7 linked regions of the Homo sapiens genome follow. Changing the gene in region 3 together with the main gene of any one other region gives a genetic interaction. Each region holds a gene or a part of one and is shown on either strand. Other genes may lie near its edges.

Region 1 (4,564 bases), on a different chromosome or scaffold from region 3:
TAGAGACAGGGTTTCACCATGTTGGCCAGGCTGGTCTTGAACTCCTAGCCTCAAGTGATCCACCCACCTCAGCCTCCCAAAGTGCTGGGATCACGGGTGAGAACCCCATGCCCGGCCCCTCACTTAAGCTTCTAAGACATCAATGCTCCTGGTTATCCTCACACTTTTCCAAACGTTTGTTCCTTTTGTGGGATGTACAAAAAGAGCTAAGTCTCAAAATATTATTATACACATTCCAACAAATGGAAAATGTAATCTTATTAAATTCCTGTGAGAAATATCCCAGCACAGAAACTATGATTTCTTGCCATTTTGATGCTGGTATTAGCTAACAGAAAGGTGCCTACTCATGGAATCTGCTTCAAATCAGATAAAAGAACAATGTGTATAGGTTACCACACCCACCACTGTGACACGAGAGTAAGACATCAGAATGCAACCCCACAGATGCTCCCAGAACATTCCACAGGCTGCAGGTAAACCCTTTGGATCTGGCTCCTGGACTTACTACACGTGGGTGTACAATTACTACAAAAGTCTGAGTAGTACATCTCCTCAAAACAGCACAGAAGCTAGTGTGGAAAACAGTGGAACACTGTCTGGCACTAGAGAATAAAGAGGACAGAAGAAAAAAAAAGCCTCGACATGATCTTTGTGTCCCCTAATATCATACATCTTCTCTCTTTGCTTAGTTAAGGAGGGAAGGAAGGGAGAAAGAAAGGGAGGGACAAGACCACCTATTCTTCCCTGGAGCAGAAAAGAAAGCTATCAATAATAAGAGAAACTACACCTTACTGAGGTTTCCTTGATGTCAGGGATTCTTCTTCTTATTATTTTTTTTTTCAGACAGAGTCTTGCTCTGCTGCCTAGGCTGGAGTGCAGTGACGTGATCTTGGCTCACCGCAGCCTCCACCTCCCAGGTTCAAGTGATTCTCCCACTCAGCCTCCTGAGTAGCTGGGATTACAGGTGCCTGCCACCACACCCAGCTAATTTTTTTATTTTTAGTAGAGATGGGGTTTCACCATATTGGCCAGGCTGGTCTCGAACTCCTGACCTCAGGTGATCCACCTGCCTCGGCCTCCCAAAGTGCTGGGATTACAGGCATGAGCCACTGTGCCCAGCCTAGTGTCTGGGATGCTTCTTCAGATAGATACTTTCTTTTTTTTGAGACAGGGTCTTGCTCTGTTGCCCAAGTTGAAGTGAAGTGGTACAAGCACAGCTCACTGCAGCCTCGACCTCCCAGGCTCATGTGATCCTCCCTCCTCAGTCTCCTGAGTAGCTGGGACTACAGGCATACGCCATCTTGTCCAGCTAATTTTTATTTTTTATTTTTTTGTAGAGATGGAGTCCCACTATATTTCCCAGGTCAATCTTAAACTCTTAGGCTCAAGTGATCCTCCCACTTCAGCCTCCCAAAGTGCTGGGATTACAGGCATGAGCCACCATGCCTGGCCTTTTAAGTGCTTCAGATAAATACATTTCATTTTAAAATTTCATTTTGGGCTGGGCCAGGGACTCACACCCGTAATCCCAGTGCTTTGGTAGGATCCAGAAGGATCACATGAGCCTGGGATGTCGAGGCTGCAGTGAGCCATGATCATGCTACTGCCCTCCAGCCTGGGAGACAGAACAAGACATTGTCTCTAAAAAATAAACAACTAATCTCCTTTTGTCTTTTCTCTCCTTTGGTACTTAAGACAACCCTCTGAGAGTAGCTATTATCTCTATAGTAGTCTGACAACGAAGGCTCAAAGGAAAGGAGGTGAGAATGGAATAATGTCAGGACAAGACTGGAATCTGAGTCTCCCCCCTCTAAATCCCTTGCTGGTTTTCCCAACACAGGTGGGAGAATGGGGGCTGTGAGACTTTGGAGGGTGTGTCCCCGTGGGGATCACCTGTGGCTGAGATGAACTTGTTGTAGTTCTCATAGACCAGGGTCTGCATGTCGCTGTCTAGAGCCCGGATCTGCCGCACCATGTCCGTCTCACTGTCCATCAACTGGGCCAGAGGGCACTCTCTACGCAGCTGAAGAAGTTGGGTGGTTAGTGTTCGGGTCAGGAGGCATTCATGTCCCCCAGCCTTGCCTGCAGCTGATAGGCTTTCAGGGCAAGAAATCTCTGATCCCCACCCACCCCGCAAACCCCCGCCGGCTGTCAGGAATCCCAGGCAGGGGGCCCTAAGTGGCCTAGCTCAGGGGTTACTAGGTTCAACCGTGTTTGGTGTTTGTCAGCATTTGAAATCCTGGGGCTCGGCCTAAGCCCAGCCCCGCGCCTGTCAACGCTTGGGCCACGCCCCCAATTCCGGGCCTATCACATCAGCCCAGAAGACCTCAGATGCCGCATCACCTCAGGCCAGTCCAGTCCTACTCACATCCCCTCAGACGCCTCAGCTGCTCGTACTCCCTGGCCGAGGTTCGTCCTCTTATGAACACCTGCTCTCCTGAACCTCACAAAAAGTCGGAGGCATGATCTGGGGGAGCAATATAGCAGGGGCCTGGTTCCCTTCCCCCCTCCCCGCACCCCCCCACTCCCCGTGCGCACACACCTTGTCTAGGTAAACTTCCGGGTCGAAGTGCGCCCCGTTCAGATCAGTCGGGTCCAGGGGGTCGGGCCCCGCGGGGCGTCCCGCCGCCTCCCCTTCCGAGAGGCCGTAGTAAAGCTTCAGCATCCCGTGCGCCTTCCGCCGACGCTCCGGAGCCTCCCCCTCGGGCCCTTCTGGGGAGTCCCCAGGTCCAGACCCCGGGCTAGGCCCGGCGGCAGCTGCCGCCGCCATCGTTCCAACTGCAGCCCACGGGCGTGAGGCTGGAAAGGAAGGGGACGGGGAGGAGGCACTTCCGGGAGCCATAAAGTTGTTGTTGAAACGAGGCAGTCCTTCAGGTGAAACGTCCCCCTGCAGCCCTAGGTCCTTCGAGACTAGAGTTCCCCCGCACCTGTCTTCCCCGGGTGCAAAGGTTCCGGGAGAGCCCTGAATTCCCCCAGTTTCCTGGGTGGAAGCATTTTGTGGAACTGCCTGGGGTTGCTGCTGTCCCAGAAGGGGGACGGGTAGTGGCTCCCCAACCTGCACTCTCGCAGGCAAGGGGCCCACGGAATATGTGCCCAGATGCAATGGACGGATGCGGGACGTGAGGCCAGAGTAGAGTGTTCCTGGGATCCTGCCACTGGCAGTGGCTCAGTTTATCCCATTCCTAAAATTGGGGTACATACTTCACAGGGGGGCTACGAGGATTAAATGCATGTACACTATTCTGTACCACGCCTCTAGCGCAGTTCTTCTTAGGGCCTGGTCCTCTGACGTGCATCAGAATTGCCTTCAGGACTATCTGTGGCGCATTGTAAGTCTCTGCGCTGAGCTGCGCCGGGCACTCCCGTAATCCCAGCACTGGGGAGGTCGAGGCGGGTGGATCGCTTGAGCCCAGGAGTTCGAGACCAGCCTGGGCAAAATGGCGAAACTCCGTCTCTATAAAAAAAAAATACAGGCCAGGCGCGGTGGCACACGCCTGTAATCCCAGCACTTAGGGAGGCCGGGGGGGTGGGGGCGCGGATCACAAGGTCAGGAGTTGGAGACCAGCCTGGCCAATATGGTGAAACACCCGTCTCTACTAAAAATACAAAAATTAGCCGGGTGTGGTAGCGCGCGCCTGTAGTCCCAGCTACTCGGAGACTGAGGCAGAAGAATCGCTTGAACCCGGTAGGCAGAGGTTGCAGTGAGCCTAGATCTCGCCACTGCACTCCAGCCTGGATGACAGAGCGAGACTCTGTCTCAAAAAAAACAAAACAAAAATTAGCCAGGATGATGGCGCACGCCTGTGGTCCCAGCTACTCGGGAGGCTGAGGTGGGGGAACTGCTTGAGCTGCGATGGTGCCACTGCACTCCAGCCTGGGCAACAAAGCAAGAAAAAAAAAAAAAGACTCTGGGATTCTCTCAGATCTAGCTTCTTTTTAGAAAGTTCCCAAGTAGTTCTGATACACACTCACATTTAAGAACCCCTAAGGCCGGGCACAGTGGCTCACGCCTGTAATCCCAGCACTTTGGAAGGCAGAGGTGGGAGAATTGATTGAGCCCAGGAGGTCAATACTGGCCTGGACAACGTAGTGAGACCCGCCCCCTATTATTGAAAAAAAAAGGACAGACTCAGCAGAGCTTAAGTGACTGATGGAATGTGCTGAGTGAAGGGTTAGGTGGAAATGTGGAGGATAACTCTCAGGGTTCTCTTTTCCTTTTTTTTTGAGACTGGGTTTTGCTCTTCATCCAGGCTGGAGTGCAGTGGTGCTATCTTTGGCTCACTCCAACCTTGACCTCCCCTCCCACCTCAGCCTCCTGAGCTGCTCTCCCAGGGTTCTGACTTGGACAAAAGTGCAGCTGTGCACAAAGGTGAAGAGCTCATGAAGACAGGGAACGATCTGGAGTTCAGATTAGGACACAGAGTTGGAATGGAGGAAAAAGAGAAAAAGACTTTCTTCATCAAAGTGGCCCTTGAAACATTACTTATGAAGGGCTGTTGGAGGAAGGTTGGAATGGAAAAACTCACTGGTTTACTTGTTCTTTGCCAGGGATCCTGCAGGC
Region 2 (4,320 bases), on a different chromosome or scaffold from region 3:
GACGGAATCTACTCCTGGTGAAGATGCTATGAACATTGTCAAAATGTTGGATAAAGGGCTCCAATTTTGAAAGACGTTATATAGTGGTTATTAAAATGCTATAAAACGGCATTGCATGTTGCAAAAAAATCTTTCGTAAAAGGAAGAGTCAATTCTTGCAGAAAATTTCATTATTGTCTTATTTTAAGAAATTGGCACAGTTACCCCAACCTTCAGCAACCACTACCTTGATCAGTCAGCAGCCATCACCATCAAGGCCAGACCCTCCACCAGCAAAAAGATTAGAAGTGGCCAGGTGCGGTGGCTCATGCCTGTAATCCCAGCACTTTGAGAGGCCAAGGCAGGTGGATTACCTGAGGTCAGGAGTTTGAGAATAGCCTAGCCAACATGGTGAAACCCCGTCTCTACTAAAAATACAAAAAAATTAGCCAGGCGTGGTGGCAGGCATCTGTAATCCAAGCTACTCGAGAGGCTGAGGCAGGAGAATCACTTGAACCCGGGAGGCGGAAGTTGCAGTGAGCCGAGATTGTGCCATTGCACTGGGCAGTCTGGGCAACAAGAGCAAAACTCCACCTCAAAAAAAAAAAAAAAAAAAAGATTAGGATTTACTGAAGGCTAAGGTAATCGTTACCATTTTTTGGGCAAGATGTTTTTTAAATTAAGATATATATACTGTTTTTTAGACACAATGCTACTGCACATTTAATAGACTACAGTATAAACAACTTTTATATGCACGGAGAAACCAAAAAAAAATTGCATGGCTTGCTTTATCGAGATATTTGCTGTATTGTGTTGGTCTAGAACCAAACCTGCAATCGCTATGGTATGTCTGTATCTAGCACATGATTATGCACATATAAAACCCAACTCCTTGATTCACAGGCCTCTGGATAGGAGATATGACATGCCCAAGGTCTCGCAGTTCATGTGAGGCAGGAAACTTAAGAGAGCCAGACTTCTTTAAGGAGACTGAAAGGTGATTCATTTAGTGAGTAGCGATTACAGAATTTCTAAAACAGTGGGGGCGGGGGGGGCGGCGGGGAGGAGGGCTGGAATTGTCCTCCAGCGCATACAAGGTTGTTGCTGCCAGAGAAATCCAGCAGGAAAGAGCAGCATTCTTTCACCTTTTCCGCCTCTGAAGCGGAGGAGAACTTCATTTCCCAGCAGCCCTTAAGATTCCTCCGCGCACTGCGCTAGCGTCCCGGCATTCTGCTTTCCGGCGCTCTGCCTTCCGGTGCGTCGTTTACGCCAGTTTGAACCAAAGACGCCCAAGGTTGAGGCCGAGTTCCAGAGCATGGGGTCTCGGTTGTCCCAGCCTTTTGAGTCCTATATCACTGCGCCTCCCGGTACCGCCGCCGCGCCCGCCAAACCTGCGCCCCCAGCTACACCCGGAGCGCCGACCTCCCCAGCAGAACACCGCCTGTTGAAGACCTGCTGGAGCTGTCGCGTGCTTTCTGGGTTGGGGCTGATGGGGGCGGGCGGGTACGTGTACTGGGTGGCACGGAAGCCCATGAAGATGGGATACCCCCCGAGTCCATGGACCATTACGCAGATGGTCATCGGCCTCAGTGAGAATCAAGGCACAGCACTTGGGCGGGTTGGGTATCTGCGGGGTAGAGGAAGGAAACGGAGCAGCCACGTGGGCGGGGAGGCGGGGAGGCGGGGTGCTGCCGCTGGTCAGGTGGTGGGGGCACCTCAAACAAGGTGGGAGAGGAAGTTGTTGGAACGCCTTTCTTTTTTTTTTTTTAATTTTAAGTTAGTATTTCTTGAGAACCCTTATTAGACTCAGCCCTTTTAATTCTCAGAATAGCTGTTAGAAGTAGGTATGATTATAGTATTTACTGTGGAGCAAACCGAGGCAACGAGGAGTATTGTGTTCATGGTCAGGAAATGACAGTCACTTGATCCCAGGTATATCAGATCTCAAAGCCCATACTTTTTCTCCAGGTCCTGGAGAAAGCCTGAGCGAGGGCCCTTGACCTTAATTTAAGAAATTTGCCTTGAATCCCAGATCTTTAGACGTGGATTCTAAGCTCACCTACTTGGTACACCTGGGTAATGTGGCCCACAGCCCCGTTCTGTGATCGTCAAGATGTCATCCAATCAAACGTCATGATTTTTTTAGCTTTCAAACCGATTGTCAGTGAATAGAATTTTAGGTTTCTAACTGTCTTACCTTCTTGATCCTGTATAGGTAAATTCTCCTACAGGATATTCTTTTTTTTCCTGATTTTTTTTTCTTTTTCTGTGCTTCACTTGCCTTATAAGAAAGATACAATGGTAATATATCCTCCAGAAGTGTTGTGAGGGTTAAATAAGATGGCGTATATGTGAAACACTTGGTAAATTTAAATGCAGCATAAAGGTAAGGTATTGTTGTTTTTTTTCTAGGCATTGCCACCTGGGGTATCGTTGTCATGGCAGACCCCAAAGGGAAGGCCTACCGCGTTGTTTGAAAGTACCACCAGTGAATCTGTCTTCTGTCTCTGTCCCTTTCCCCGTGACACACACAGCAGGCATGGAATTTAATGGGTGTTCTGGACAGACACTTGTACATGGACAGACATCACTACTGTGGATACTACAAGACTGAGAAGAAAATCGTATGTTGTCATTCTCTGGCTATGGAGTGTTTGTGGCCTTCACAGATTTCACAGGAACCAATAAATCCCTCAGAGAAGTAAACAGGTTCTTTGTCTTATCTGGGGAAGGAAAGTATAACTTATATTTAAATATAATTGCTTAATTAAGCATTATATATAAACATAATAGTATGTCTTATATAATTGCATGTCATATTATATATAATAAACATAAATATGTTTAGTTATATAGTTAGTATAATTTTTAAAACTTTTAAATACAGCATATGGTAAACCAACGGGAAAATTAGCTATTTTACTTCATTATTTTAAAGAGTTCTTTTTATTTCTTTCATAATTGGATCAACAACTGTTAACCTAACCCTGGGTGGGCATCATGCAATATATAGAAGTACGTGAAATTTTCTGTGTATGAATTGCTGATACTTTGCAAGGCATTTTCAAATCCATCACCTTATGAGAGCTTCACAGCTAGTCTGAGGTAGTTACTTCATTGGAGGTAAAACTTAAAACACAAGAAAGAGCCCACATGATTTGCCTAGGGTCATTCAGTAAGTCCGTGATGGAGCTAGAACTTGTTCTTGTCAGTTTTTTGTTCTAGTCTTCCCTTTCATGGAGGCAAGAATAACCATTATGAAACAGTTAGATAATCATAAAAATCAGCATACAATAAAAGACTTAAATGTCACAAGAAAAATTCAAAACCTTTAGCTAAAAAAAAAAAAGATCTTTTGATTCTTTTTCCACAAGCACTAGATATGTTTCTGTGATGATTTTGAGATAAGTACTCAAAATTACATAGTTCATTTCTAAGAGAAGGCCATGTTTTCTACCTATTGGGTTTTTCTACCCTGAGATACTATGGCTTCTTTGTAAAGGTATATAAAGTGTTTTTCAAAGCGGAAAGATACTGTTAAATTCAGCTGCTAATCATAGTGTATTTGTTTGGAATGACATGTTGAGCAGGTAGTACCTTTACGGCTGTTGCTTTTTGCAGCATTATGTGGAAGTGCCTAAGTCTATTTAGCCTCACAGATGACTTTAGAATCTTGTATTTTCTACATCAGAGTTCATAGCGGGGATGGTGCTACATATATCTATGCAACTGAAAAAGAAAACATTTCAAACCTAAAGTACGCAACAAGATATTATTTATATGAAATCCATAGCTCAGTTATGCTATGTTCATGAATAGAGAAGTTTTAAGTTGGAAGGGACCATGGATGACCCAAAGCAGATACATATGGTCATTCATATACCTAAAATACCTACAAAGACAAGTTGTTCCCTGGTTTAAAAGGCAGTCTGTTCTATTGATGGACTGCTTTAGTCCCTGAACATTTTCTTTGGTTAAACCAAAAACACATAAACCTAACTTGGTCTTGGCTTGATCTACTGGGTAAATAATAACTCTTAAATATATATACAGTTGACCCTTGGACAACACAGGAGTTAAGAGCGCTGAACATTTGCTCAGTGGAGAATCTGCATATAACCTGACTCCTCAAAAACTTAATTAGTAGTTAGTTTACAATTGACTGGAAGCCTTATTGATAACATAAAGCAGTTGATTAACACATTTTTTGTGTTGTATGTATTATATTCCGTATTCTTACAAGAAGGTAAGCTAGAGAAAAAAAAAATGTTATTAAGGAAGTAATATATTCACTATTCGTTAGGTAGAAGTGAATCATCCTAAAGGTCTTCATCCTCA
Region 3 (3,861 bases):
TTAGTTTTCTCTTCCACTACTTTCCTGTGTGCTCTGCCAGCTGATGTTATATTTTCTCTTTGCCATGCCTTATTTTACCCAATCCTCTATATCTCTGCTTGAAGTTCTGTATTTTCTTAAGTTCTTTGAACTCACAGTGGTAGGACTGACAATTATTTTTCAACCAAGCTAAAGACATCTTTTTAGTATGGGTACTTTATCTGCCACTTATTTTCCATTTCCCCCCATCCTTTCTAATAGCATCTTTCTACAGCTATTGTGCTGATTCCATTTGTTTTGTTTTTTTGGTTTTGAGATGGCGGTCTCGCTCTGTCACCCCAGCGGGAGTTCAGTGGCAAGATCTTGGCTCACTGCAGCCTTGACCTCCTGGGCTCAAGTGATCCTTCCATCTCAGCCTCCTGAGTAGCTGGGACTACAGGTGCATGCTACCACTCCCAGCTAATTTGTTTTTTCTTTTGAGATGGAGTTTCACTCTGTCACCCAGGCTGGTGCAGTGGCACAATCTTGGCTCACCACACCTCCGCCTCCCAGGTTCAAGTGATTCTCCTGCCTCAGCCTCCCAAGTAGCTTGGATTACAGGCACGCACCACCACATCTGGCTAATTTTTATATTTTTAGTAGAGCCGGGGTTTCACCATGTTGGTCAGGCTGGTCTCAAACTCCTGACCTCGTGATCCGCCAGCCTCAGCCTCCCAAAGTGCTGGGATTACAGGCATGAGCCACTGCGCCCGGCCCTGATTTATTTTTTCTTTTTGAAACAGTCTTGCTCTGTTGCCTAGGCTGGAGTGCAGTGGCACAATCTCCGTTCACTGCAACTTCTGCCTCCCAGGTTCAAACTATTCTCCTGCCTCAGCCTCCCAAGTAGCTAGGATTACAGGCATGTGCCACCATGTCTGGCTAATTTTGTATTTTTAGTAGAGACAGGGTTTCTCCATGTTGGTCAGGCTGGTCTTGAACTCCCGACCTCAGGTGATCTGCCTGCATCCACCTCCCAAAGTGCAGGGATTACAGGCATGAGCCACTGCGCCTGGCCATATTCCACTTTAACACACACAGTCCTAGTGCAGAAGAAGAAGGTGAATGTGTGTATGTATATGTAATTTTTAAAATAAGCTCCCAAGTTATCCAAATCAACATAACACTCCAGTCACTGGAACATTTTCCCACAATTGTTAATAAAACAAAAATCGGCTAACACAATATTCTGAGAATATACACTAGCTTTTCCTGGTCTTTTCTATTTGCTTTCTCTTCAAGCCTCTTCCTGACTGATTACCAAGGACCAGTGTCTGCAGGTACCCAAGGTCCTGCCCTATTAAACTTTAAGATGAATTCTGGCACAGCACACCTTTGGCTCGTGGCTCAGAGGCTGACCAGAGAGCTCTGGCAGCGAGAGCTTTGGCAGCAAGTCCTTAGGCAAGCCAGGCTACCTACAGAGCATAGATTCACTCCTTGTTCAAGTGACAGCATCTCCAATAAGTCTATGTGAACAAGATTAGGACAAAAAGCAATAAAGTAGCATTTTTTTTTAAAGCATTATCACTTTTATCCAGTGGTCACAACAGGGAATGAGTCCTCTCACTGTCTAGAAAAAGGAGGAAGTTAAAACCAGAAGAGTTTTATGTCTTAAATTCCCCTGCTGACAGTCTTGACAGGGACTCGTGGAACACTGCGACATTCTAAATATCTATCAAAAGTACTGATGTGTACCAAAACACATTGTGCCTAAAACACATGAGTATGTGTTCAATACAGACCGGCTAAATTAATGAGCAAATGAATGATAATCCTGAAGGGCTACCGCAAATACCAAGATGAAAAATTAAATACCGGAGTCGAAATAATTATGCATCAAACATATAAAGTAATTGTATTAAAAACCTCAGAGGAATCAACACAGGCTGGTGAGGTGAGTACCCATCCCAGTGTTTCAAGTACAAGGTGGTCATGCCACCCAGACTCACTACTAGGATTCTCCAAAAAGCATCAGATATACCTACAGTCTCTCCTCAGAACCTCAAAAATACTCTCTGGATGCCAAATCTTAGAGCACAAGTAGTCAGTTAAATACTGGGGCAAACTAAATCCCAATCACACTGCCATCTTTATCAAAACCAACCCTGAAACATGCACTTAAGTGGAACAGAAGCCCAGGAACTGCTACCCAGCTTTTCCCAATAAAAGAGGGGAAATAACACCTGGGCCTAAAGACCAAACATATTGTCAAAACACAGGAGAAATGCCAAATTCTTATATCTGACTTACGTAGGTAAGCCAGGTAGAACAAGAGAAAATGGATTTAAACTAGAAAATTACACTACTTGGAGTCTGACTATAAGAATCTGCTAGACTACAAAATGAGTTGGGTTGAAAGAGATAAGGGAATTTTCCCCCCAGAGTCTTTAAAAGGCAGAGAATGAAATAATGACCTTTTCAGCTACCTTTCTGACCTCTTATTCCTGAATCCTTTCTGGAAAATACAAAAGTAAATTTACTAAACAGCCATATAATTCTCTTTGGTTATATTTCAATTACAGGTACAGTAATGATAATAATTAAATAACAGCTAACATCTCTATATGGCTTATTCCACACCGGGTGGCGTTCCTAAGTCCATTACATATATTAACTCATTTAATCTTTGAACAAGGTAGATGTTATTATTTATTGCCCTAATTTTACAGATGATGAAACTGAGACACAGAGGATAACTTGCCCAAGGCAATACAAAACTGGGAAGTGGCAGGACTTAGATAACCCAGGCTAATCACAGAGCTTTTTTCATGGGTGAACTTGGATGGAAGGGCAGAACCAATGTTTAGGAGCATGCAGACACAAAAAGATCACATTCTCGCCTCTGGCCAACAGATGCCAAGGCAGCTCCAGGGCCATGTTCTGAGAGTGCCATCTGGACCACTCAACCACTAGTGTGTCTGTCACCTATCTCCAAGTCTGTTAACTTCAGGGGTGGAGCCCAGGAATGTGCAGCTCCCTCAGGATTCTCACACACTAAAATTTAGAGAACCTGTTGCTCCAACACCAATCTTGCTGTATCCCTCAAGAGACCACAACAAAAGAAGGTAGAAACATAATAACCAATAATGAGGCTGTTTTTTGAGACAGGGTCTGGCTCTGTCGCCCAGGCTGGAGTGCAGTGGCGTGATCTTGGCTCACTATAACCTCTGCCTCCTGAGCTTAAAGCATCCTCCTACCTCAGCTTCCCAAGTAGCTGGTACTACAGGCAGATGCCACCATACCTGGCTAATTTTTTAATGTTTTTGTAGAGTCAGGGTTTCTCCATGTTGCCCAGGTTGGTATCAAACTCCCGGGCTCAAGCGATTCTCCCATCTCAGCCTCCCAAAGTGCTAAGATTACAGGTGTGAGCCACCACGCCCAGCCCTATAATGGGGCTTTTTATTCCAAGTGTAGTTGATAGAATCTGTTTCTTTACTCTGCAACAATTCCCAAATTTATTCACATGAAGGAACACCTGGAAGTCAATTTCTTAAACTGTTGATAGACTTAATTCTATGGATCAACTAGGTACAATTTTACGTTAGGAAAACATGATTATGCTAATGCAAATTTTTAAAAATTACAACCATGTTTTCTTAGTGAATGTCTCCACACTAAAAAGATGACCACTTCTAGCCTTTTTCATCAGTGTTAATTTGCTGTGTCCATTTTACTTTATCCTCTGCTGGTGACCACTATCCATGGCAAGCAGGAACCAATGGTCTAAAAATTCCAACCAATAATTCTAAAGTTCCTCCAAATTATGAAGTCGACCACCTCTTTGGCAGGGTTTCTCACAAACTTAGCCTGAGAATCACTTTAAGGCAGGATTTGCTGCTCACCAAC
Region 4 (3,861 bases), on a different chromosome or scaffold from region 3:
CTTTCGGTCCCACTCTTCTCTCTGCTGGATCATGTCTGCCTCCACCTTCTCCTGCTCTTCCTTGCTTCTTTGGGCAATGGTCTGCACTGCTCCATTTTTCATAAGAGGGACATTCAGTCCGGGCCATAGAAAACCATAACGCCCTGAAGGTTTAAAAATATAAATAATAATTTTGTTAAAGTACTCATTTTTCAAGTGTTAAAATGTCAGGCAATGCATGTACAGATAATGATGACACACTGTTCACTGGAGCTTAAGCTAACATTATTAACTTGGTAGGTCACTTGGCACAATCAAAATTTTAAATATACTTCATGGTATTACCTAGAGAAACACTCACATACAGGTACAAGGCATATGGATGCTTGGACAAGGACGTCCACTGAAACATTATTTGCAAAGGCAAGAAATGCAACTAATACAAATGTCCAGCAATTATGGACTGGTTAAATGAACCACAGCGTCTCCAGCATAGGAAACACTCTGCACTAAATCAAAAGAACAAGGTAACTCTCTAGGTTCTGATGTGGAATGATTTCCAAGACCTATTATTGAGTGAAAAAAGTAAACTGTAAGACAGCATGTACCATGTGATATAATCTAAATTTTTTTTAAAAAAGAAGATATCTATTTCTTTTTAGCTATTTATATATAAATTAATAACAATTTAATACATAATACCTTTTGTATTCATCTTTTTAGGTATTTATGTATAAATACCTAAAATTTAATACATAAATACCTTTTTAGGCATTTATGTATTAAAAAACTGAAGGAAACACACCAATATGAGGCCAGTGGTTTCCTTGAGGGAGACAATAGGATTGAAGAAGGTAGAAGAAGCATCCAGGGGGACTTCAAGTTTCTCTATAATCTACATTTTTTACTGAGAAAGTATAAATACATGATTCTTATAATTTAAAAAAAAAGTGTTAAAAAAATAAGATATAAGTAATAAAGAAAAATATCCAAGTAGACATGCGATGCTGGAAGTGTGGTGCCAGGTGTTTTCTTTATCCCTGAAGGCCATTACTATCAAAGATGGTTTGTCAGCAAGCACAGTACAAGACGGGCTGATTGAAGTACACTACACTATTTTTACTCTTCCAAAAGCATGAGTATAAACAATCACGTGTTCTGGGTGTCAACAAACTAAGGCCCACAGGCCAACTCAGTTCGTGACTTGTTTTTGTAAATGAAATTGTACTGGAACATAACGATGCCTATTCGACTGTGTGTTATCTGTGGCTGTTTCTGTGCTACAACAGTAGAGTTGAGCAGTTGCAAAACAGACTATGTAACTCACAATGCCAGAAACATTTACTATCTTCCCTTTGCAGGGAATATTCGCCAACTCTCCATTTAGTCTCTATTTTATCACTAATTATAACCTATTTGAGGGCAGGCACTATTATAGGAGATGACACCTAGGGACATTTAATGCTTGCTGAATGAATAAATCCATTTCTATGGGATTTTCCTCCCCCAGAATCCTGGGGCAATGAGTAAGTCAACTGGTTGAATTCTAAAACCATAGATCGTAGTGCCCTTCATAAGAAATGTTTTGATGCTTCTAGTTTGTAAAATATCTATAAAATCTGGGGTAAGAAACTTACAAAGCACTTTAGCTATTTTTATAAATAAGTTTACCTTCACCAATGATCTGACCCCTGTTCAGATCCTTTCTTTTCTTCTTTTTAGTTCTTTTGCCTCTTCCTTTTTTTGCTCCAGCACCAGTCTCTGCTAAAGCGCCTTTCCACAGCTCATCTGCAGTCACTGTAACGAAACAGGGTTTCTTTTCTTAATTCTGTAGTTTTCAAGCAATGGTCTATGATCTCCTATTGAATAATAAGAGAAGTGGAGGTCAGCTTACAGCTTTACCCATGCATCACTGAGGTAATGAAAGCAAAATTAAATCATCCTTTGCACACATCAGACGGTTACACTTGGAAAGCCCAAGAAGAGACAATTCTATTACTTTCCTCCACAAAACTCTCACTAAATATTTTATTTTTCCCTCTAACTGCTTAAAAGCCAGCATTCAAATCTCAGTTACTTACCAATAGGTTCGTTTCCCTGACATTTTATCAACCATGATATAGGCGTCTTCCCTGTCCTCTTGCCTCCATTATAACCACTAAGATAACTAATAACTATCCTTCCTAAGTATAAGTTTTCTAGTCCAAACAAGAATCAACATTTCAATCTGAACCCACAAATCTGGAACACAATCTATGGTTATAAAATCAACTGTTGGCCAGGTACAGTGGCTCATTCCTGTAATCCCAGAACTGTGGGAGACTGAGGCAGGAGGATCACTTGAGGCCAGAGTTGGAGGCCAGACTGGACAACATAGTGAGATCCCATCTCTATTAAAACTTCAAATATTAGCCAGGTGTGATGGCATGTGCCCATGGTCCCAGCTACTGGGGAGGCTGAGGTGGGAGGGTCACTTGACCCCAGGAGTTTGAGATTACTATAATCATGCCACTGCACTCCAGCCTTGGGGACAGAGTGAGACCCTGCCTTCAAAAAAATAATTGTTCCATTACCAATTTCTTTAATAAAGAATCGGAACCACAAAATGTTATAACAGTAAAAAATCTAAGACATATTTATATCTATATAACTGAAATACTAAACAAATTCTAGAAGATAAATGAGTACCTTCATTCTCTTATGAATGCTTAGAGTTTAAAACTTCTACCTACTTGCTTCCTGCAAGGTCTTACGCTGATCCTCCAGGTAGATAACACGAAAAGAGAAAAATGTTTTAGGGTTATAATACTTTTAAATGCTTTATATCTGTATAGCATCCAATTTTTCAAAAACACACACATATACACAGCTGGTCTTCGTAAGTGAGGCTCAGGGAAAGTGAGATTCCACATCACATGTTGTTTTGGACATCCCTGACCAGAACAAAGGATTCGGCTCAACTTTAAGCCAACTCTAATTCACTTTAAAAGACCACAGGCTCAAAATAAAAGTACCAACCTCCAACCAAACTCTCACTAAGGATTTGATTTTTCTCTCTAAGTGCTAAAAAATGGTGGTACCTATAAATGCCATGGAAAACTTGAAAGTTCACTTGTAATGGAGGCATACTAAGAGGCCAATCAATCACAGAGTTTTCTTTCACTTAGAATCAGAACCCTTAAATCACTCATTAAGATGAAAAGAGACTCAATTTTAAAAAGAACTTGACATTGAGACAAAAATGTAAAAAGACTGAATTAAGAGTTTAGCTCTTTTATATATATATAGTAAGAGGAAAATAAAATATCTAACTATATTTGAAAAAGACAGCAAGTCATTAGTCAACCTTTGAATGCCATTATGCTATTAAAAACGTTTTTAATACTTTTCAAATTATAAAATAGCTATTTTTAAAAATCTGGAAAATACAGAATGCAAAAATAATCATAATCCCATTACCATTGTTAGATAAGAATGTATATTCTGCCTTTTTCTTTATGCATGCATACATAGTATATATTTAAGCAGAATTATACCATATGCACATTTGTATCCTGTTTTTTTTAAATTTAATATTACATTGTGAGTCTTTTCCCATATTCTTAAATATTATTCATCAACATAATTGTGTAATGGCTGCAAGGTGAATTAAGTTCTTTTAACAGAGATTTTACTATTTTTACCTCAGGTCTAAGATTCTAAATAACCTAAAAGGCTAGTTAGAATACATCTACTATCATTTCAATTCTTTCTGTCATTTTTCCAGAAGGGTGCAGTTAGGTTAATATATACACCTATTAACTATAAAAGATTAAGTTCATGTTTTGTTTTTTTTTGGAGATGGAGTCTCACTCTTGTCGCCCCAGATGGAGTGCAATGGCA
Region 5 (3,861 bases), on a different chromosome or scaffold from region 3:
AAAGAGGACTTAGTTAATATATATTGAGCTCTAGGCCCTGAAAACAGAGAGCACCCCTTCTTTCTAGGTCCCAAGAACAATTCACAAAAATTCACTATATAGGCTCTATTGAAAGGAAAGGAGGAATTATAGGCATAGGGGATTTTAGGACAAGGGAACTACTCTGTGTGATACTATAATGACAGATACATGTTGTTATACATTTGTCAAAACCCATAGAATATACAACACCTAGAGTGAGCCCTCATATAAATTGTGGAGTTTCAGTGATAATGATGTGTTCATGTTAGTTTATGGATCGAAACAAATAGACCTTTATGATGTGCGATGTTGGTGGTGAGAAAGGTTATGTGGTTGGGAAATGTGTAGCAATTTTTTGTACTTTGTGGCTCAACTTTTCTAGGAACGTAAAACTCTAAAAGATAAAGCATATAGCTTTTTTTATTTTTAATCAAAATCCTATGAAAGGTGAAAAGAAATTTTTTTTTTGAAAAAAGCAAAGTCAAAAGATAGTCTATCAACTTAATAGAAAAATTGTCGAATGATGGCCGGGCGCAGTGGCTCACCCCTGTAATCCCAGCACTTTGGGAGGCTGAGGAAGGTGGATCACCTGAGGTCAGGAGTTCGAGGCCAGCCTGGCCAACATGGTGAAACCCCGTCTCTACTAAAAATACAAAAAAATTAGCCTGATGTGGTGGTGTGTGCCTGTAATCCCAGTTACTTGGGAGGCTGAGACACCAGAATCGCTTGAACCCGGAGGCAGACGTTGCAGTGAGCCGAGATCGCCCCACTGTGCTCCAGCCTGGGTGACAGAACGAAACTCCATCTCCAAAAAAAAAAAAAAAAGAATAGAAAAGAAAAATGGTCAAATAATACATGACTAGACAGAAGAGATGACAGAAAAGGAAATATGTTTACCCATAGTCATACAAAAAAAAGATGTTATACATCATTTATAGTATTACTATACAGAGCTAACATTTTTATTTTTCTCTTTTTTTTTTTTGAGTCATGGTCTCACTCTGTCGCCCAGGCTGGATTGCAGTGGCGCAATCACGGCTCACTGCAGCCTCAACTTCCCGGGCTCAAACAATCCTTCCTCCTCAACCTCCCGAGTAGCTGGGACTACAGGCGTGCACCACCATGCCCAGCTAATTTTTGTATTTTTTCTAGAGATGGGATTTCACCATGTTGTCCAAGCTGATCTTGAACTCCTGGGCTCAAGCAATCCACTTGCTTCGGCTCCTAAAGTGCTGGGCTTACAGGCCTGAGCCACTGCACCTGGCCTTTCATTTTTTAGTGTTGGTATGATCTAAAAGTGTGACAGTATGCTCTGATAAGGCTGTAGGGCAATAAGTAATCGTATATTACTGTTGGTGGTATGAAAAGGCACAATTGCCATAGAGGACAACTTGGTAATATTCATCAAAATTAAAATTGCATTAACCTTTTAACTTAGCAATTTTACTTCTGGAAATTTATAGCTGTCCCTTTTTAATGAAATAACGTGCAGATGACCATTTATTTCAGCACTTTTTTGTAAAAATAGCTAAAAACAGCTTAGGTGTTTGTTGGTATTAGACTAGGTAATTATGGTACATCTTATAGTGCAGTACTATGCCATTTCAATATATTTATGTAAAAATAACAAAGATCTTTAAAAAGTACATAATACTATACCGTTGTAATTTTTCCATCAAAGTAACTTTTTTTTTGAGACCGAGTCTCGCTCTGTTGCCCAGGCTGGAGTGCAGTGGCATGATCTCGGCTCAATGTAACCTTCACCACCTGGGTTCAAGTGATTCTTCTGCTTCAGCCTCCCAAATAGCTGGGATTACAGGCATGCACCACCACACCTGGCTAATTTTCTTGTATTTTTAATAGAGACGGGGTTTTGCCATGTTGGCGAGGCTGGTCTCGAACTCCTGGCCTCAAGTGATCCAACTGCCTCGTCCTCCCAAAGTGCTGCGATTGCAAGCATGAGCCACCATGCCTGACTCCATCAAAGTAACTTTAATGACAGAAAATACGTAAACAAGTGGTATATGGGATTATACCTTGAAGTGACCAGTTTTCTAATAATTTCTACTTTATCTTTAAAATCTGTGGGCTTACTATATTCTCTCTAATATGTTGTAACTTTGAATTAATTTTTTAAACTGCTCTTATCATTGAGTAATCCTACTCCAGGAAGTTGCACCTTATTTATTTTTTGGCTGCTCTTACCCGTAATGTTTTGTCATCCATCCTAGTTGGATAAACACATGTGTAGCAAAGTTAATTCTTCAGGTACTACCTTATTATTTTTGTGGGCTATTTTTCTAGACTGATTCAACTGAAGAACTATAATCTGTAAACAGAATAGCCCAGTATTTGTCTCAAAATGGTTTATCAAGTTTGTCTTTTTTTTTTTTTTTTTTTTTTTTTTTTTTTGAGATAGAGTCTTGCTCTCTCGCCCAGGTTGGCATGCAGTGGTGCAATCTCAACTCACTGCAAGCTCTGTCTTCCGGGTCATGCCATTCTCCTGCCTCAGCCTCCTGAGTAGCTGGGACTACAGGTGCCCGCCACCACGCCCGGCTAATTTTTTGTATTTTTAGTAGAGATGGGGTCTCACCATGTTAGCCAGGATGGTCTCAATCTCCTGACCTCGTGATCCGCCCGCCTTGGCCTCCCAAAGTGCTGGGATTACAGGCATGAGCCACCCGGCCTCAAGTTTGTCTTCTTTCTAATGAATATATCCAACAAATGACACCTAAACCGATTTGATTTATTTGCAGTTGGGCATTACTAATGTTGTAGTGGTTTGTTCAGTATGTTTCTATTTAAAATATCTGTGTTCTGTGTTAGACATTCAAGTCATTCAAGGCTGTTTCTGTATAAAATATTCCCTTTAGCAGGATGAAGTTAAAGGAAGTAGATCGTACAGCCATGCAGGCATGGAGCCCTGCCCAGAATCACCCCATTTACCTAGCAACAGGTAAGTTCAAAGGAGAGAAGATAGTATGAGTTACCTAATTTCTTCTCTTCTGCACCTAGCTTATTCAGTTTAAGCTTTATCTTCTCTAGAAAGCCTCTCTCTCCCTGGCAAGTTACTGACATTCTATCAGCCAAGTTTAGTGTTCTTCCTCTGTGTTCCCATAGCATTTTGATCATGATGTGTTACATCTAAAATATTTTCCTTCACAGGAATTGTATTTTATCTTTATTCCTCCAGTATTAAGCACAATAGATGGCATGTAAAAAAAACAGTTAATATCAGTTTGAATGAATGAAGAGCAATTTTGATGTTAGCATTTTTATATAAAAAGAAATAGTTATATCATATATGTCTATAAGCAGATATAGTAAATCACGGGACTTTTTTTTTTTTGAGATGGAGTCTTGCTCTTTCGCCCAGCCTGGAATGCAGTGGCGTGATCTCTGCTCACTGCAAGCTCCACCTCCCTGGTTCCTTCCATTCTCCTGCCTCAGCCTCCCAAGTAGCTGGGACTACAGGCGTCCACCACCATGCCTGGCTAATTTTTTGTATTTTTAGTAGAGATGGGATTTCACCATGTTAGCCAGGATGGTCTTGATCTCCTGACCTCATGATCCACCCATCTCGGCCTCCCAAAGTGCTGGGATTACAGGCATGAGCCACCGTGCCCAGCCCCCATCACGGGACCATTTTTACAGAGATTTTTAAATATATACAGGCTTAAAAAATTATTTACACTACCCACTCTTATAAACATCCTCTCCTAGCCCTGTGCCAGAATCTCATTGCTATAGTAATTTAAGCATCTGCTCAATGGCATATGTGCAGCATTCATGAGCAAGAGAATGGAAAACATGCTTTTAACTTCTGTTTTGTATGGTTTC
Region 6 (3,861 bases), on a different chromosome or scaffold from region 3:
CTGGGCCTCCCAAAGTGCTAGGATTACAGGCATGAGCCACCGCGCCCGGCAGTCCACTGCTATTTTCAAGGGAAAGGGAAAACATCGTCTTCTGAGTTCTCAGTTCTGGATTTCATTGACACCATTGCCCTAGTTCAGGACTCCATTCAGCATGCCTGCTGTTTGGCATTTGTCTCCTAACTGACCCCTCCATCTCTACCCCACCCCTGGATTTATCTCTGCCAGTCAATTGTCCAGTACACGGGGAGGGGAGGGTCAACCTCCCTACCCAGACCCTTCCTTTCACAAGATCAGCTGCCAGCTCCTGCACAGGAATCTCACCCAAGCTTGAGGTACTCAGATCCAGCCAGCAAAGCACAGCAGGTCCACCGGGCCAACTTGTAGCTGTTGTTCTTCAGCTCCGTGGCAATGACAGCCCCTCGCTGAGAGTCCAGCTTCTGACGCCAGTCAACGCCATTACAGTGCTGCAGGAGAGCCCCGTTAGAGAAACAGAAGCAAGCTCCAAATGCCCAAGGTGCTGGGACCTCCTCTGGCAGAGAAGGAACTCCCTAGTCTGCTTGCTTAGAAAGTGGGTAGGTACGCACTAAATCTTACCATTTAAGAGACAAAGACATAGTCCCTTCCCTTGCACAGCCTGCCGCACAGCAGTCACTCAACGACTTACAATTCCTCTCTTCTAAAAGCTCGCCTAGACAGGGAATGATGGATGGACACACACGGACACACACACACACACACACACTTTAGAAGTGTCATATAAACAGCAGAGCCAAGTGTTTACTATGTGTTGCGTGGTAAGGAAGGGCTTCACAGAGGACGTGTAACAGTGAGCCAAGTGGAGAATATTGGCTCAAGTGCAGGTGTAGCCAGGAGGTCTTGATCTGAGAGGCATGGTGGGATAGGAAAGACAGGCAGAGTTGGCCTTAGATGGGGGTGGAAGCCTGCAGTGGGTGCAAAGCTGAGTCTGACATTTTACATAAATGCACACACAGTAGAAAAGGACCCCAGAGAGATCCTCTTTTCTACCCATATCATTTGTAGACGTGGGAAGTTGGACCCAGAGTGAAATGACTGGTCAAAGGTCACATGACAGAGGTTCCCAAACTTTCTTGGTTCATGGCAAACACAGGGCAAAAGAAATACTCAAGAATTTCTTTTAAATTTTTTTTCTTTTTTTTTTTGAGACGGAGTTTTGCTCTTGTTGCCCAGGGTGGAGTGCAGTGGCACGATCTTGGCTCACTGCAACCTCCGCCTCCCGGGTTCAAGTGATTCTCCTACCTCAGCCTCCCTAGTAGTTGGGATTACAGGTGCCCGCCACCATGTCCAGCCAATTTTTGTATTTTTGGTAGATACGGGGTTTCATCATGTTGGCCAGGCTGGTCTCGAACTCCTGACCTCAGGTGATCCACTCGCCCCGGCCTCCCAAAGTGCTGGGATTACAGGCGTGAGCCACCGTGCCCGGCCAAGAATTCCTTTTATTTAGTTAGGGTCAAACCATGTATTAGTATTCTGACAAGATGTCTCTGTGTTTCCCTAAAAAATTTAAAATATCCTGCAGCACTCCTGTGAGTTTGCTGTGGCACATTTTTTGGAGATGGGGTCTCACTATGTTGCCCAAGCTGGTGAGTTCAGGATTTGAACTCATGAACCCAAGCGATTCTCCCACCTCAGGCTCCTGAGTAGCTAGGACTATAGGTGCATACTACTGCATACAGCTTGCTGGGGCATGTTAGAATTCTTCTCCCAATCTGCACTGCTGATGAAGCGTGTATTGGACAATTGACTGGCGGAGATAAATCAAATATAGAAGTTGGGTGGAGGTAGAGAAATCAGTTAGGAGACAAATGTCAAACAGGCATGATGAAATGGGGCCCTGAACTAGGGCAATTATCAGTGAAATCCAGGACAGATTCAGAAGACAGCAAAGCCTTCTATTTTGCTAACAGCAAAACAGAATAATGTAAAAAAGAAGTTGGAGATGTTGGAGGCTCAGAGCTTAGGTGGAAGAAAGACAATGCTGATGGACAGCTGGCCCAGAGGCAATGACGGGACTGGGGACACATGGAAGGGGAAGGTGTTTTAGCAGAAAAACAATGGGAAGTATAATAAATCAGAGTAGATTTGAGAAATCATTTTCAAAGAGTTCATGGTTGAGGCCTGGGATGGGCAGAATTCTAAGATGACCCCCAGTGACCCTTGCCCTTGCAGAGTCTCCTCCCCTTGACTACGGGCAGAACCTATGGCTAGGATCAAGTATCACCCCCATGATCATCCTACCTTGTATGTCAAAAGGGATTTTGCAGATGTAAGGCCGCAAATCAGTTTACCTTAATATACACTACCTGGCTGGGCTCACCCAACCGTATGAGTCTCTTAAATCTAGGTGTAGAGGTCGGAGACGGAGGAAGTCAGAGATCTGAAGCACAAGAAGGATCTGATGTGCTGTTGCTATCTTGGAGATGGAGGGGGCCATGTGACAAGGAATGCAGGTGGCCTCTAGGAGCCAAGAGAGGCTCCCAGCTGACAACTGGCAGGGGGATGGGGGCCTCAGTCATCTAACTGCAGGGAAATGAACTTTACCCACAATAAGAATGGGCTTGGAAGTGGCTTTTCTTTCAGAACCTCCAGATGAGAACTCAGTTCTATTTCTATTGACACCATGATTTCTGCCTTGTTTGGATTTGTGGCCCCACCCAAACTGCATGTCAAATTGTAAACTCCAATGTTGGAGGAGGAGCATGGTGGGAGGTGACTGGATCATGGGGGCAGACTTCCCCCTTTGGCACTATTCTTGTGGTAAGAGTATTCAAGAGATCTGGTTGTTTAAAAGTGTATACCAACCTCCCCCCTCTCTTTCTCCTGCTCTGGCCATGATGTGCCTGCTTCTCCTTTGCTTTCTGCCACCATTGCAAGTTTCCTGAGGTCTCCTCAGCCACGCTTCCTCTAGAGCCTGCAGAACTGTGAGCCAATTAAACCTCTTTTCTTTATAAATCACCCACTCTCAGGCATTTCTTTACAGCAGTGTGACAATGGACTAATACAAGGACCAAGCACACAGCACTGGACTTCTAACCTACAAAACCGTGAGCTAATAAATTGGTATTGTTAGGCCGGGTGCTGTGGCTCACGCCTGTAATCCCAGCACTTTGGGAGGCCGAGGCAGGCAGATCACCTGAGGCCGGGACTTCAAGACCAGTCTGACCAACATGGAGAAACCCCATCTCTACTAAAAATACAAAATTAGCTGGGTGTGGTGGTGCATGCCTATAATCCTAGCTACTCGGGAGGCTGAGGCAGGAGAATCGCTTGAGCCCGGGAGGTAGAGGTTGCAGTGAGCCGAGATCGCACCGTTGCACTCCAGCCTGGGCAACAAGAGCGAAACTCCGTTTCAGAAAAATAAAATAAAAAATAAAAGTAAAATACATAAATCGGTATTAAGTCATTAAGTTTCTGTTAATTTGTTATGGTGCGAAAGAAAACTAATACAAAGTTATATAATACAGAAGTATGTATGGCGAAGAGAGCTGTCCAGGTGACTCCACTGGGATCAAAAAGGAGGGGAGCCAGCAAAGACGACATGCAAACGGAACAGGGAAACGGGTGAGACCAGAGTAACGCGGTAACACAGACGGCAAAACGACACAGGCACGACGGCCCTGAATGCTTTGGGGAGCTCACCAGGAAAAATCCAAGAAAAGGCCGCTGGCCCCAGAGCGGCAAACCTTCCAGTGTGCTCTTTCAACAGGTGATGTGGGCGGGGGGGCGGATTGGGAGGGGTGGGGTGGAAATAGAGGAGGAAAAGTGAAGGAAGCATGTTTCTTTCAAGGTGCCTCTGAAGAGTCAATTCTGAGCCAGATCTTA
Region 7 (3,861 bases), on a different chromosome or scaffold from region 3:
TCTCGCTATGTTGCCCAGGCTGGAGTTGAGTGGCTATTCACAGGCACAATCATAACACACTACAGCCTGGAACTCCTGGGCTCAAGCAATCCTCCTGTCTCAGCTTCCCAAGTAGCTGGGACTACAGGTATGCGCCACTGCTCCTGGTTCACAATTGCTTTTTAAAACGAACTTTAAGTGCTGGTTCAACAGGTTTGGCTTGTATTATTCTTGAGATAGAATCAACAATATATTATTGCAGATATTAAATTTCAGACATAAATTTATTTATTCTACTAATATTTAACAAGCATCATCTATGCACCAGGCTCTGGGCCAGGTGCTTGAGATACAGTGGTAATCAAGATGCAGTAGTTGACCTCATAGAGCCTAGAAATATCTCTTAAGCAGCCGGGCGTGGTGGCTCATGCCTGTAATCCCAGCACTTTGGGAGGCCAAGGTGGGCGGATCACGAGGTCAGGAGTTCGAGACCAGCCTGGCCAACATGGTGAAACCCTGTCTCTACTAAAAATACAAAAATTAGCCGGGCATGGTGGCGGGCGCCTGTAATCCCAGCTACTCCGGAAGCTGGGGCAGGAGAATCGTCTGAACCTGGGAGGCAGAGGTTGCAGTGAGCCAAGATTGCGCCATTGTACTCCAGCCTGGGTGACAGGCAAGATTCCATCTCAAAGGAAAAAAAAAATGTGTGTGTGTGTGTGTGTGTGTATATATATGTATATCTCATAAGCTAATCTTTATAAAACTAATTTCAACCTTTTCTGTTAAAAAAGTAGACCTATGGACTAAGACAACTAATTAAAATTTTAAGAAAAGGACATCCCATAGATGCAGCAAGTAACTCCATGTCTCCAGAATTATCAGCACCTTCCTGTCAAAAGGTTAAAAAACTGACACTGATTACTGAAGTGATAGAGTAATCTGTTAAAGGGAACAACATACTGCTCACTGAAAGAAGAGAAGGCTCTTCAGGTAAATGGAAAGGGTTTTTATAACACACTCTTAGCATCTAAGATCAACAAACCCTTGCTTAACAGGAACTTAGCCATTCTTTATCTCATTTTTCACATGTTCCTATTAATATGGGTTTTACTGCCAAATACTGAATTGACTGATGCTCAGAAGAATCAATGACCTTTAGAGAGGGTGTTGGGGAAAGCAGTTCCCATCAACTAGCCCTGAGTCAGTTTGCTTCTAAGATTTTCCTCCAGTTGCCTGCCAGTTGACATCTGGGTAAAATGCGGAGGGTTGTTGCTCAGAGCTACAGACAGGATTATAAGGCATGGGAAGGTCCAGCTTGGAGTCAGAAGAGCACATGTTACCTCAGGTCTGAAGCTATGTTCAGTACAAAGTATTCAATAGAAAGAACTGTACAGTTACTATCTGGGGACGTGAGAGCTGGGAGAAGAGGAGGAACGTGAAAAATGAGACCAAGAATGGCTAAGTTCCCGTTAAGGAAGGGTTTGTTGATCTTAGTTGCTAACAGTGTGTTATAAAAACCCTTTCCATTTACCTGAAAAGCCTTCTCTTCTTTCAGTGAGCAGTATGTTGTTCCCTTTAAAAGATTACTCTATCACTTCAGTAATCAATGTCAGTTTTTTAAACTCTTGACAGCAATCTCTGCCCAGCTGCTGCTCTTCTCAAAGCGGCTATGTGGCTTGTTACTCACGCTTCAGGTGTCTACCTCACATTAAATATGGACAGATTTGACTTATTAGATATCTGTCAAATGAAGCTAGCATGGCTGGTTACGTTATACTATTTTAAATATTGAAGCGCTATCATATTTATGCAAATATTCTTGGAACTGATTGATAGGGAAGAAGTTTTCAAATTAAATGAATAAGAAAATGCTAATATGAAGAGGACGCATTGGAATTAAGATATTTACCCTGTATAGTTTTTACTCCTAATTTTATCTTTAGTTTGAGAGAGTAATGTATTGGAAAAATTCAATCTAAGAGATCATAAATTCTAAGAGATCACAAGACACTGGTTTAGATAGCTGGGAATAGATTAGCTTACCTTACTCAGTCCTAAGTATGTCACCATGGACATAACTGGTGCTGCCAATGCAAAGACCAGCAAGTGCTTTCTGATTCGATTCCGCTCTAAGCCAGCATGCATCAAGAAGGAAACCAGTCCAAAAGCAGCTGGTGCCTGGAAATAAAAAATCATCTCTTATTATCATTCTAGAAGTATGGGTTGCTTCTACATCAAGAAGTATATGCCATTTGACTATGATTTCTCATACAAAGAAAAACTCACAAAAGGCCAGGCACAGTGGCTAATGCCTGTAATCCTAGCACTTTGGGAGGTCGAGGTGGGTGGATCACCTAAGGTCAGGAGTTCGAGACCAGCCTGGCCAACATGGTGAAACCCCGTCTCTACTAAAAATACAAAAATGTGTGGTGGTGGGCACCTGTAATCCCAGCTACTTGGGAGGCTGAGACAGGAGAATCGCTTGAACCCAGGAGGCGGAGGTTGCAGTGAGCCGAGATCACACCATTGCACTCCAGCCTGGGTGACAAGAGCAAACTCCATCTCAAAAACAAAAAACAAAAAACCCACACACACACAAAAAAAACCAAAAAACAAAACCAGGCAGAGTACAAACGCTGAGCTATGCCTCTTAGGAATTAATGTTCTAAGCCAAGAAAAGATCCTATTTGTGTGTTTCTTGGATAGTAAAAAAGAGAAACAGTCAAGAAAAGAAAAATACTTTTGAACAGAAATTATTACTATGAAATATAAAAATCTGAGGAGAATTTGACAATTTGTGTATATGTCTACACAAAAAAATTGAAACCCCTCAAGGAAAAGCTTAAGAAAATGGGAACAAGAAGCTATGAACAGATTTATTCAATTTTCCAAAATGAATAGCAATTATGAAATGAAGAAAATGTTCCCATTCCAGGAAAAACATTAAGGACCATGAGAAATTTTAATTATGAATACACTCAATACCAAACCTTACACCAAAATGTTGCTTACCTTATGTAGCATGATTGCCACAAACACAATTAACTGGACACTGGTCTGTGAAGTAGATGCTGCTGCTCCCAAAGCAACACCATCAGCTATATTTGGAAACAAGGAAACATAAAATACTATAAACAACAACAACAATAACAGTGTAGTGGTTGAGTGTATGAGCTTTACAGTCAGGTCCAGCTGGATCTAGTAATGTTACTTAACCTTTCTACATGCCAGCCTTATCTTTAAAATGTGTTCAATGAAGTATGTATTTCTTAGGGTTTTCATGAGGATTAAATGAGATAACTTATGTAAAGAGCATAGCATCTGGCCCAGAGTATTCAATGTTAGTTATTTTGGTTGCTGTTGTTGTTATTGGAAAACTAACATTCAATTTTCCAACTAATCAAAAATCCATTGATTAGTTAATCAAATTCTAACAAGGGAAATACCAAAGAAGAATTTCAAAGGAAGCATCTCTTAATCTTATAGGTTAAGAAACAAAATAGTCCCAGCTACTTGGGAGGCTGAGGCAGGAGGATTGCTTAAACCCGGGAGGTGGAGCTTGCAATGAGCCGAATCGTGCCAGTGCACTCCAGCCTCGGCAACAGAGTGAGACTCCGTCTCAAAAAAAGAAATAAATAAAATAAAGATACTAGAACTCTATATAGATGATTACTACTTAATAAGTAAACACTGGTTGAATGAATGAAATTTGTTAGAAAAGCATATTATACTTAGAAAGGGCCAGGTAACAGTGTACCACCTTTCACATGCCTTTCTTTGCCACTGACAGAATTCTATTACTAGGACTAGGTTTGGGTTATGATTCTAAAGTGTACCCTGTCAGCAATGCTAAGATCTCTGCATTCCACTGCATACCACTTC

What was found.
Region 1: changes in DCAF7 (region 3) and VPS51 together harm fitness more than expected from each alone (negative genetic interaction), as found in Homo sapiens cells (one large-scale study listed by BioGRID).
Region 2: changes in DCAF7 (region 3) and DMAC1 together harm fitness more than expected from each alone (negative genetic interaction), as found in Homo sapiens cells (one large-scale study listed by BioGRID).
Region 4: changes in DCAF7 (region 3) and MRPS5 together harm fitness more than expected from each alone (negative genetic interaction), as found in Homo sapiens cells (one large-scale study listed by BioGRID).
Region 5: changes in DCAF7 (region 3) and SEC31A together harm fitness less than expected from each alone (positive genetic interaction), as found in Homo sapiens cells (one large-scale study listed by BioGRID).
Region 6: changes in DCAF7 (region 3) and EIF3D together harm fitness less than expected from each alone (positive genetic interaction), as found in Homo sapiens cells (one large-scale study listed by BioGRID).
Region 7: changes in DCAF7 (region 3) and SLC39A9 together harm fitness more than expected from each alone (negative genetic interaction), as found in Homo sapiens cells (one large-scale study listed by BioGRID).

Annotation. Positions count from the first base shown.
Region 1 is NC_000011.10:65,094,460-65,099,023, reverse strand, and holds the start of VPS51 (vacuolar protein sorting-associated protein 51 homolog), read right to left. Parts: upstream 2,811-4,564; 5' UTR 2,774-2,810; coding exon 2,546-2,773; intron 2,027-2,545; coding exon 1,897-2,026; intron 1-1,896. UniProt on the Homo sapiens protein: Acts as a component of the GARP complex that is involved in retrograde transport from early and late endosomes to the trans-Golgi network (TGN).
Region 2 is NC_000009.12:7,796,712-7,801,031, reverse strand, and holds the start of DMAC1 (distal membrane-arm assembly complex protein 1), read left to right. Parts: upstream 1-1,253; 5' UTR 1,254-1,297; coding exon 1,298-1,571; coding exon of another isoform or gene 1,572-1,583; intron 1,584-2,394; coding exon 2,395-2,459; coding exon of another isoform or gene 2,460-2,596; 3' UTR 2,597-4,320. UniProt on the Homo sapiens protein: Required for the assembly of the mitochondrial NADH:ubiquinone oxidoreductase complex (complex I). Involved in the assembly of the distal region of complex I.
Region 3 is NC_000017.11:63,553,460-63,557,320, reverse strand, and holds part of DCAF7 (DDB1- and CUL4-associated factor 7), read right to left. Parts: intron 1-3,861. UniProt on the Homo sapiens protein: Involved in craniofacial development. Acts upstream of the EDN1 pathway and is required for formation of the upper jaw equivalent, the palatoquadrate. The activity required for EDN1 pathway function differs between the first and second arches.
Region 4 is NC_000002.12:95,108,266-95,112,126, forward strand, and holds part of MRPS5 (small ribosomal subunit protein uS5m), read right to left. Parts: intron 1,777-3,861; coding exon 1,651-1,776; intron 144-1,650; coding exon 1-143.
Region 5 is NC_000004.12:82,880,974-82,884,834, reverse strand, and holds part of SEC31A (protein transport protein Sec31A), read left to right. Parts: intron 1-2,894; 5' UTR 2,895-2,898; coding exon 2,899-2,977; intron 2,978-3,861. UniProt on the Homo sapiens protein: Component of the coat protein complex II (COPII) which promotes the formation of transport vesicles from the endoplasmic reticulum (ER).
Region 6 is NC_000022.11:36,512,139-36,515,999, forward strand, and holds part of EIF3D (eukaryotic translation initiation factor 3 subunit D), read right to left. Parts: intron 465-3,861; coding exon 322-464; intron 1-321. UniProt on the Homo sapiens protein: mRNA cap-binding component of the eukaryotic translation initiation factor 3 (eIF-3) complex, a complex required for several steps in the initiation of protein synthesis of a specialized repertoire of mRNAs.
Region 7 is NC_000014.9:69,454,028-69,457,888, reverse strand, and holds part of SLC39A9 (zinc transporter ZIP9), read right to left. Parts: intron 3,078-3,861; coding exon 2,992-3,077; intron 2,158-2,991; coding exon 2,023-2,157; intron 1-2,022. UniProt on the Homo sapiens protein: Transports zinc ions across cell and organelle membranes into the cytoplasm and regulates intracellular zinc homeostasis. Participates in the zinc ions efflux out of the secretory compartments.